2 separate regions of the Homo sapiens genome follow, and region 1 is linked to region 2. The links come from fine-mapping of genetic effects on gene expression. A gene starts in region 2. The other region holds a variant in brackets. All regions are shown on one strand. Distances are between the middles of the regions. Region 1 has its middle 89 kb from the start of MYO10. Region 2 holds the start of MYO10 (myosin X).

Region 1 (5,336 bases), 89 kb before region 2:
CATTTATCGATTTGTTTATGTTGAACCAACCTTGCATCCCAGGGATAAAGACATCTGAAAAAAAATTTTTTTTTTTGGTTTGTTTGTTTTTGAGACAAAGTCTCGCTCTTTTGCCCAGGCTGGAGTGCAATGGTACGATCTCGGCTCACTGCAACCCCCACCTCCCAGGTTCAAGCTATTCTCCTGCCTGAGCCTCCCGAGTAGCTGGGACTACAGGTGTGTGCCACCATGCCTGGCTAATTTTTGTATTTTTAGTAGAGATGAGATTTCGCCACGTTGGCCAGGATGGTCTGGAACTCTTGATCTTAAGTGATCTGCCCACCTCGGCCTCCCAAAGTGCTGGGATTACAGGCATGAGCCACCGTGGCCCACGTGAAATGTTTTTAAAACATTCTTTTACCTGGGAACATAGATTCAAGTTGCCCTGAATATATACTCCTAAATCTGCAACTTTAACATACATTTGTGCTAGTAAAATATCATTTTAATGATTACTTTTATAAAGTCAAAGTAGGACAAATTAGAGAGTAGTTAATTGTCTCTACTATTCATCGAATAATGATTTATATAACTAAAGAAGAACTATGTGTGCTGAAACCCTCCTTTTCACTGATCAGGATAATTGTACACCACAAACTTGAGCCACAGCTGTTACCCAAAACTGCATTGAAAGTGACCAAGAGGAAACAGGCAGCTCCCTGGTCACAGGCTGAGTGAGCTCTCCTGAGATGTCATCCTAACCCTGGAAGCTCGGTCCATTCGGGAAGTCTTCAAAGCCCCATTAATGAATTCTTAAATGGGAATGATAATAGTGCAATTTTAAAAACAAATGAGGCTAGGGCATGGTGGCTCACGCCTGTAATCCCAACACTTCGGGAGGCCAAGACAGGTGGATCACTGGAGGTCAGGAGTTTGAGACCAGCCTGGCCAACCTGGCAAAACCCCATCTCTATTTCAAATACAAAAAGTAGCTGGGGGTGGCGGCAGGTGCCTGTAACCCCAGCTATAATCCCAGCTACTTGGGAGGCTGAGGCAGGAGAATCACTTGAACCCGGGAGGTGGAGGTTACAGTGAGCCAAGATCATGCCACTGCACTCCAGCCTGGGTGAGAGAGTGAGACTCTGTCTCAAAAAACAAGAAAACAAAACAAAACAAACGAACAAACAAATGAGGAGGGAGGGCTTTGGAATTTAATTTCCAAATGGAAAAGAGAAACTGCGTTCCTCCTTTTTTTCCTTTTTCTTTCTCACTTTCTCTTTCTCTTCTTTCTACTGATTTTTAATTTCTCTGTGGCAACAAGATAAAAGCACATTTACTTAGGATTCTTTAATTTCACTGGGGATTAAAGGGGTTCGCTGGGTAATGGGGGATAATTCATATGGCTCTCTTGTTTTTCATTGCCAGTGCTGTATGATTCGGGGTGATTCTATAAACCAACGTTTGTCATTTAATTTCACCTTGTGCTTAAGTTGGACAGATTAAATAAAGGTAATGTAAAATGGAAATGATGTTGGGGGCTTGTTCCTAGTCTAGAATCAAGGGTGTCCTTGGAAAGAACTTGAAGCCCTGCCTTGTCCTATGGTAGAAGCTTCTGGGGAAAGCATCAAAGGGGCATTTGCTGAAGAGGTGGGGGTGAGGAAAACACCAAATCTCATTGCTCTCAGGAGAAACATAAGGCTCTACTTATCTGATATTGCACTGATCTCACCTGCCTATGGAGGTGGGTTCACAGCCTGACTGTTAAGCCTATTGAATAATCAGGAAAAGGAACCAACAGTGTGAGAATACTGACCTATATGGTGAAGAAATTCAAAGCCCCTCTCTGTACTTCCCCCACCCTAAACCTTCTCCTTTAGGTTGAATTGGGAAAAAAGGTAAATGTACTCCACTCCCAAGCACGTGGGCTGATCTGGGATAAGCCAAATGCTAGGAAATTTTATTGGCCCACATCTTTGTGCTGGAATCTTCCAGGGGGATACAGGTAGCAGTGGGTGTGGATTTTTCATTTCCCTGAGGCTACTTTTTAAATTTTTTTTATTTTTATTATTATACTTTAAGTTGTAGGGTACATGTGCACAACGTGCAGGTTTGTTACATAAGTATACATGTGCCATGTTGGTGTACTGCACCCATTAACTCGTCATTTACATTAGGTATATCTCCTAGTGCTATCCCTCTCCCCTCCCCTCCCCCAACCCCATGACAGGCCCCGGCGTGTGATGTTCCCCACCCTGTGTCCAAGTGTTCTCATTGTTCAATTCCCATCTATGAGTGAGAACATGTGGTGTTTGGTTTTCTGTCCTTGAGATAGTTTGCTCAGAATGATGGGTTTCCAGCCTCATCCATGTCCCTACAAAGGACATGAACTCATCTTTTTTTTCTGGCTGCATAGTATTCCATGGTGTATATGTGCCACATTTTCTTAATCCAGTCTATCATTGACGGACATTTGGGTTGGTTCCAAGTCTTTGCTATTGTGAATAGTGCCCTGAGGCCACTTTTTAAGCAAACTCAGCCTTCTTTTCTGTAACTAGAGAAAACGTCTATGGTAGTTATTTAGCATTCACTATGTAGGGCACTGTTCTTCTCCCATGGCATAGATATCATTATTATCATCCCCATTTTATAAGTAAGGGAATTGAGGCACAAAGAAATGGAGTTGCTAAAAGTTACAGAGCAGTAACGCAGAGCCACGTCATCCCGCTCCTAAGTCGGGGACCCGAACCACTGTGCTATATAGCAGGTCACCATACTTTATTGAAATTACTTTTAAAGTGTTTCTCCAGACCCAGGCACAGTGGCTCACAACTGTTAATTCTAGCATTTTGTGAGGCTGAGGCAGAAAGATCGCCTGAGGCTAGGAGTTCAAGACCAGCCTGGTCAACATAGTGAGACCCCATCTCTTTAAAAAAAAAAAAAAAATGAAAAAGAAAGTGTTTCTCCCAGTAAATTATCATGTCAGCGTCTTTGTCTCTCTTTCACTGCTGAGCCCCAGAAGCCATCAACAGTGATGACTCATCATAGAATGAATAAATAAGGCCTAGAACAGAGACTCCAGGCCTGGGGCAGAAAGTTCCCAGGTTCTCTCTCACCAGCTCCTTTCTGAGCTCCTGAGTTTAAGAGAGTGCTCCTCTTCAAATTAACCAGGGAAGACCAAGGACTCAGCATTGGCCTAGGAATGTGAGCAGAGTGAACATCGCAGCCAGCCTGTGCTCAGGCCTTTCGGGGACACTTAAAGGAGCTCTCCCTCCAGGTCCAGCCAAGCTTCAGGCTGGGAGCACCAAGGCTCCCAGCCTTGTAAACACTGTCAGCCTTGTT[T/C]GGCTGATAGCCGAACTCCGGTGCACACTAAGTGTTTCTCCGTTTTGCAATTCCTTCTTTATTCTCTGCACACATTGCCCCTTCCAGGATCTCATAGTGCTGCACAGGTGGCTGAATTTAAGTGCTCTCATTTCCAGGCCAAAATACCATCTCTTAAGCCTCTTTTAATATTGCTCTTTGAAAATGTCCAACATAACTTCTTTCAAATAAATTTTTCATACCAGTATATATTCACAATAATGAAAACACTCATCACTCCCCTTCCCTAATTAATTTTTTTTCTATAGCGCTTATCACCATGTAATTTTTTTTTTTTTTTTTGAGACAGAGTCTCGCTCTGTCACCCAGCTGGAGTGCAATGGCACGATCTTGGCTCACTGCAACCTCCGCCTCCCAGGTTCAAGCAATTCTCCTGCCTCAGCCTCCCGAGTAGCTGGGATTACAGGCGCCCGCCACCATGTCTGGCTAATTTTTGTATTTTTAGTAGAGACAGTTTTCGCCACGTTGGTCAGGCTGGTCTTGAACTGACCTCGTGATCTGCCCGCCTTGGCCTCCCAAAGTGCTGGGATTACAAGCCTGAAGCACCATGCCTGGCCTTTTTTTTTTTTTTTTTTTCTTGAGACAGAATCTTGCTCTGTCACCTAGGCTGGAGTGCAGTGGCGTGATCTCGCCTCACTGCATGCTCCGCCTCCCGGGTTCACACCATTCTCCTCAGCCTCCTGAGTAGCTGGGACTACAGGCACCCGCCACCACGCCCAGCTAATTTTTTGTATTTTGTTTAGTAGAGATGGGGTTTCACCGTGTTAGCCAGGATGGTCTCGATCTCCTGATCTCGTGATCCTCCCGCCTCGGCCTCCCAAAGTGCTGGGATTACAGGTGTGAGCCACTGCGCCCAGCCTAATTTTTTTATCTTTATAGAGATGTGGTTTCACCATGTTGGCCAGGCTGGTCTCGAACTCCTGACCTCAAGTGATCCTCCCGCCTCGGCCTCCCAAAGTGCTGGGATTACAGGCATGAGCCACTGTGCCTGGCCACCATGTAACATATTATATGCTGTTATATTTAACTTATGTATTAGCTGTCCCCTCCCCCCTGACTAGAATGTGTGTTCTACAGGGGCAGTAGTTTGTGTCTATTTGGTTCATAGCTATATGCTAAGCCTCAGAACAATGTCTGGCACGTAACAGTCATTCCATTACTATTTGGTAAGTGAATGATCTGTGTAAATTATGTAGCATGGCCCTGTGTTCCCTCACTAGTGTTTACAATGTACTACAATATACTTTGTACACTGTTTACTACGCTTAATAAAAGTAAGTTTAAAAAACTAAGATGTTTGGGGAAAATATTTACAAAGATGAGATAGTCCAAGGCAGGAATGGGAGGTGACTACAAACGGGCACAGGGTTTTTAGGGAAGGGACACAAATGTTCTAGACGTGGATTGTGTTGCTAGCTGCACAGGCCTATGAATATATTAAAAACATGAAACTATACACTTCAAGTAGGTTAATTTTATGATACGTGAATTTTTTCTTTTTTTGAGACGGTCTCACTCTGTCACGTGGGGCAATCACGACTCACTGCAGCCTCAATCTCCCAGGCTCAAGTGATCCTCCCATCTCAGCCTTCCGGGTGAGTAGCTGGGACACACCGCCATGCTGGCTATTTTTGCCTTTTTTTTTTTTTTTTTTTTTTGAGACAGAGTTTTGCTCTGTCACCAGCCAGGCTGGAATGCAGTGGCACAATCTCGGCTCACTGCAATCTCTGCCTCCCAGGTTCAGGCGATTCCCCTGCCTCAGCCTCCCAAGTAGCTGGGACTACACGTGTGCACCACCACGACTGACTAATATTTTGTATTTTAGTAGAGACAGGGTTTCACAGTGTTGGCCAGGATGGTCTTGATCTCCTGACCTCGCGATCTGGCAGCCTCGGCCTCCCAAGGTGTTGGGTTTACAGGCGTGAGCCACTGCAACCGGCCTAATTTTTGTATTTTCTGTAGAGATGAGGTTTCACTGT
Region 2 (5,376 bases):
CTGCTTTGTCCAGTGGTTAGCACAACTCTCTCAGAGGAAGCACTCAAATTTTAAGAAATGGTAATAAGACTAGATATTCTTAGAAATCTATTGATTTAAAATGCTTCCCAGTCTCTGTCCAATCCTGTCAAAGCCCTTATAAATTTAACACGCTGCTTTTTAACAACTGATTCAACCCCAGATACTTGAGGGTTAGATATCTTATTTAGAACATGCATTTTGCTGTTCAGCAAGTAAGAGTTTCGCTGCCACAGCTTATCTTACACCTTTTTGAGAATATGGGGATATATAGAAAAGCTGATGAATTCTGATAAAGTGGCGATTCCCAAGCTCTGAACTGGTTATCGGGGTGCTTATTAAAATGCAAATTCTTTCAATATAATCCACAGGTAAAGAAATAAAAAATGCAAATTCTTAGGAAATCAATTTGCCACAGAGATTTGGAGTCAGTTTTTTTTTCTTTTTAGCAACTGATAAGGTGATCTAGGGATCAACATTGATAAAACATTGATGTAAGTTTTTTTTTTTAACTTTCTTACCCTGTTAACTGATGATGTAAGCTTTTTGAAGAAATAAAATGATTCAGTAAAATCTAAACTTTATATATTGGATCTGGCTCACCATTCTTTACGTGAGTCAAATTGGGGGCAATTATTAACGATATCTTCATAATTGGCAGGAAAATCACCTTTAAAAGATTAGTAGACTTTAAAAAAACAGTTTTAGGCTTACATAAAAATTGGCCAGAAAGTACAGAGAGTGTCCATAGACCCCTCCCAGCCCCTCACCCTCACTTGCCCCTATTATTAACATGTTGCATTAGTGTGGTACATTTGTTATAACTGATGAGCCGATATGGAAAGTGACTTTTGAAATGACATGGCGAGGTTGCCCAACGTATCAGTGGCTGGGCTGATGCTGGGAACCACGTCACACCCACACACTCACTTCAACAATCTCCCTGGTAATTTCTCTGGCAGAGATGTTGTGTGCAGATTAATACCATAATGACTGTAATTGTTCTGCTCCAGTATCTGAACACCAGTGGTTGCAGGACCCATTTGACTAAGCACTGGGATTGTTGGTATTTATCCTGACTCCATCTTCACTTTCCTTGCGACCTTGGACACAAGCTTTAATGGCTCAGCGCCTTAAGCGTGTAAACCTGTGAAACAGAACAACATTGCACAATATCATTAACTAATTTACACCTTGACTCTTTCTAAAGGGAAGTGAGGTGGGAGCAATGATATTAATGGTGAAGAACTGGACTGGGATAAGTTACAAACATGCTTGACTTTCCCCATAAGGATTACAGAAGGATGTTTCATTCATTCATTCATGCTGTGAGACAGCCTGGGGATACTCATCTTAAAGCACAGTCCTTCCCCAACAGTCTTAGGAATAAATCCTAGAGTGGGCATCTAGCCCAGTGGTTACGGGGAGCTTGGGTGGGGTGAGTGGAGTAGCATCTTTGGGAAGGGTTCCTTCCCCTGGAAGGTGTGACTTTGTGAGCTGAGTTTTAAAGGTTGAGTAGCAGTTGGCAAATTCCCTGGAGAGAGCATCTCAAATCTTTTGTGCTGAAGAACCAGCCATTTTTGTTCCCAGTCGGCCAGGTACCAATACACTGCGGCGCCAGGTGTGACTCACCACGTGAGTCTGACAACACCCAAACTGGTTTATACTCGGTTCAAAGAGTCCACTGATCATGTGCTTGGATGTCGTGGCATTATTAAATTGCTACAAACGTTTACTCTTAATTTCTCTACTTGTTACAAGCTTTCGTTCAGCACAGGACCAGGTAGCACCTGAGGGGCACCTGGAAAGCAGATTGTTCCAGCCTGCGTTCTAACAAGGTTCCCAGGTGACCCTCGCACAGCATAAAGTTAAAAGAACTGCCCTAGGGGAAACGGGACTCAGTGCCAGGTGGGTTTGATCATTCGTCCATCTCAGTGCCATCTGCCATCTCTGCTTCCTTGAGGTCTAGAAAAGGGTTACATTTTTAAAGGTGATATTGGCCACGTCCCCTTCCAGTTTCAAAACTACATTTCCCCGCTGTTACGCAAACGTCTTAAGCAAACCCGACTGCAGGACAGAAAGTCAACACGGGAATGCAGCTTCCAGAAATTCTGATTAGCCTCCGTCTTCCGCTTTGATCTGGCCCCGCAGCCCCGGCAGCTCCGCTGACCGCGCTTCCTTCCCGAGATTGCTAGTCTACCGGGCTGCATTAATGAGATCCGTGTTGAGCCGGTTCCCGGGTCTGCTAAACATGAAAGGCACAGAAGCCCCCAGTCCCTTCTCCTCCCCTCTAAGTGATTGTTTAGTCTCTCTCTGCAGAGGGAAGAGTTAAATCCCCTCCCCACGCCTACGTGGGAAGACCTGGGGAAACACGCGGCCCCCTCCCGGGTCCGCTAACGAGCCTGCGGCTGCTTCGGGCTTAGAGTGGGCGGGGCCTGGTCGGGAAGGGGGCGGGGCGCTCCGCCCGGGCGGGGCCAGACGGTGTGGTTGGCGGAGGGCCAAGCTCCTGGGGGCGGGGCCGCGAGCGGGAGGGCGGGGCCGGCTGCGGGAGGGCGGGGCCGGCTGCGGGAGGGCGGGGCGAGGTCGCTGGGCTGTAGTCCCGCGGGCGAGAGCTGGCTGAGCCGCGGCGCGGGACTGCTCACCTCCAAGCGCTCGCGCGGGGATCGCGGCTCCTGCTCACTTTGCGGCCCGCTGTCCTCCTGCCCGCCCCGAGGGCCCCCGGCCGGAGCGCAGAGGGAGGGGGCCGCGCTCGCCAGCACCCCGCCGCCTTCCCCCGCCTGGGGGAAGAATGTGCCACCAGCTGTTCTCCGCTTGCGAGCGCTGCGCCCAGTAGTGAGGAACTTGGAGGAAGAAGAGACAAAGGCTGCCGTCGGGACGGGCGAGTTAGGGACTTGGGTTTGGGCGAACAAAAGGTGAGAAGGACAAGAAGGGACCGGGCGATGGCAGCAGGGGAGCCCCGCGGGCGCGCGTCCTCGGGAGTGGCGCCGTGACACGCATGGTTTCCCCGGACCCGCGGCGGCGCTGACTTCCGCGAGTCGGAGCGGCACTCGGCGAGTCCGGGACTGCGCTGGAACAATGGATAACTTCTTCACCGAGGTAAGTGCGCTCCCAGTCCGACCTGGCCTCCGGAGCCCAGGGAGAGAGGCGTCTGCCCACCACGCCGCGCGCCCTGGGTACTTTTTCCTAAGCCCTGGAAGGCGCAACTTTCTGGGAGTCTCCTGAAATCACCCCCCATCCCCCCGCGGAGTCTCTGATGAGTAAGCCCGGGCAGGTTTTGTTTCGTCCTGTCCCGCGCTCGCATTTTGCTCCGGGAGGTAGCGAAGGTGCGTTTCCGTTTGCGTGGGTGGCTGGCTCTCGGGGCGCCCTGGGACACCCGCGCCAGGTGAGGCGGCGCGCGCCGGGGCGCGGGCGGGGCGATCCGCCCGCTCGACTGCCCGGGTGCAGGAAGCCCAATAAAATGTTCAGCGGGGACCTGCCTTTCTCCAAGAAAGGTCTTGTCTGGTATTTCCTTTGCAAAACGTGCGGGCTTCCTGTGCAGGGGTTCAAACACTTCCAGAGGAGACGGCTTAATGAAGTGTGAGAAGGAGAGGCAAGGGTTTAATCGGTTACTTTGCTCGCCGAGAAGTGCTCTTTTAAGGCTTGGGATAACTCCAGACCCTGGGATCAAATGATCATGTATTTGTGTAGAGTGTCCATGCAGATTTTGAATTCGAATGTAAAGAAAATTCGTTTAGGGCAAACAGTGGCTATTTTAATAGATGAAACGGATGCCCTCTTTAGGGTCGTTGAGGGTGGGACACTGAAACTTAACTTGAGAACCCTTTTTCCCCCTTTGGGATCGAGACTTACTGTGGTTTCTTGGCTCCCTTTCCTTTCTTGGTTGTGTTTATTTAATAAATTCTGTTTAAGTTTGAGGTTTGAAGTGGCTCAAAGTAAACTTAGTTGACTTGAGAGAGTCTGATGTGATTTTCGTTGAAAGCCAGGGAATGTTTTCTGAGTGCAGAACCGCTTTGGAGTCTTCCAGCAAATCAGATTGATGAGGGCTTGCCTCTGTGTTAGCCGACTTGGTTTATCTGATTTAATTGGATATAATATTTCAAGTCATTCTGCTTTCTGCATGCTCACTGACTGTATTCTCAGACAGCTATTCATACTGGCCAAAGTGATAAATGCATTCTTGTTTAGTAGTCATATCTAGTTTTTAAAAGTGGTGTTTCAGATGTGATACCCACATTCATTGTGGAAGGAAGACTAGAAAGGAATTATCCATCAATACATATTTTTCCTTTTCTTAAAAAAAGTGAAATATATATAATTGTGAGACGCTCGCATTTTCTAGTCCATAGACTTTTGTTTTCATGCTTGTCGAAAGGCACCAGAACTTTCTGCAAGAGTTGCACGTTGTCCAGTGGTAAAGGACCCTCGGGCTACAGTGAGTTCCGGTGTTTAATTGCTTGCATCTGTAAGAAAACGGAGGCCCTGCCCCTAGGGCAATGATTCTTAACTTTGTTGTTTTTGTGTTCTGGGTCCCTTAGAAAATCTGATGAAAATATAGAAATTTGTATTCAGTTTGCACGGATCTCACTCCTCCTGTAGCCTGTCTGAGCACCACAGGGGTCCGTGGCTCCCCCTTGGGGAGAACTCTGCCCCCTAGTGCAAGTGGGGGGAACATCAGGATAACGCGCTACAGCGTCCTGATCTCCTGTTACCCGGTGAGACTTTGACTTTTCAAAGTACTCTTTTCATCTTGCACTGGATACCTTAGTTCAGTGTAAGGGGCCTGGTTGTTGGATTTTATTTCTGTGATCAATATTATTTTGCAGTTGGCCATTAGTGATCTTCTACTTTCTCCTCTTCATTTTGTAGACAGAATCTTAACCCAAAGATATGAGTAAGTCCCTTGCCCAGCTTTGAAGAGCTTGTTCACGAATCCAGAGCCTTTTTCCTTTGCTGCTGGTGACTTTGGTATTTCTGGGAACTTTTCGCTTATTTTAAGGTTATACTTTTAATCTTGTGATGTATGTGTATTACAATATTAACTTCTAATCAGCCGTGAAAGTTCCACCCTTAAATCTAATCACTTTGAGTGGGAAGGAAGCAGGGCCAGTCAGAGAGGTTAAATAGTGAGGTATTAATTGTAGACATACTCTTAACATAGATCCCAGCTCCCCTTTCTCTCTCTCATGTCTTGTAATGGAGCATCCTTTTGTTAAATTGTCCAGTGAAGAAAATGCTGTAATTAATGTCCTGTTAGAATAGAAACAGCGAGTGTGGAAGTGATATATTCCCCAAGGACAGCTAAATTGTTTGGCCTCCTTATCACTAAGTAGAATTCTGTCTTTGCTAACTTTTCCCATT

The links. PIP is the estimated chance that this variant, and not a neighbour inherited with it, causes the effect.
Region 1: its variant is fine-mapped to the expression of MYO10 in thyroid (GTEx, PIP above 0.99).

Annotation. Positions count from the first base shown.
Region 1 is chr5:17,022,755-17,028,090 of GRCh38, reverse strand. No RefSeq gene overlaps it. Among named protein-coding and RNA genes, the nearest start is that of MYO10, 89 kb to the right of the region's middle. The variant T/C (reference allele first, on the strand shown) is at 3,319.
Region 2 is chr5:16,933,526-16,938,901 of GRCh38, reverse strand. It overlaps MYO10 (myosin X), which reads left to right and starts at 2,614. Exons shown (of 41, transcript NM_012334.3): 1 at 2,614-3,114. The coding sequence starts at 3,094.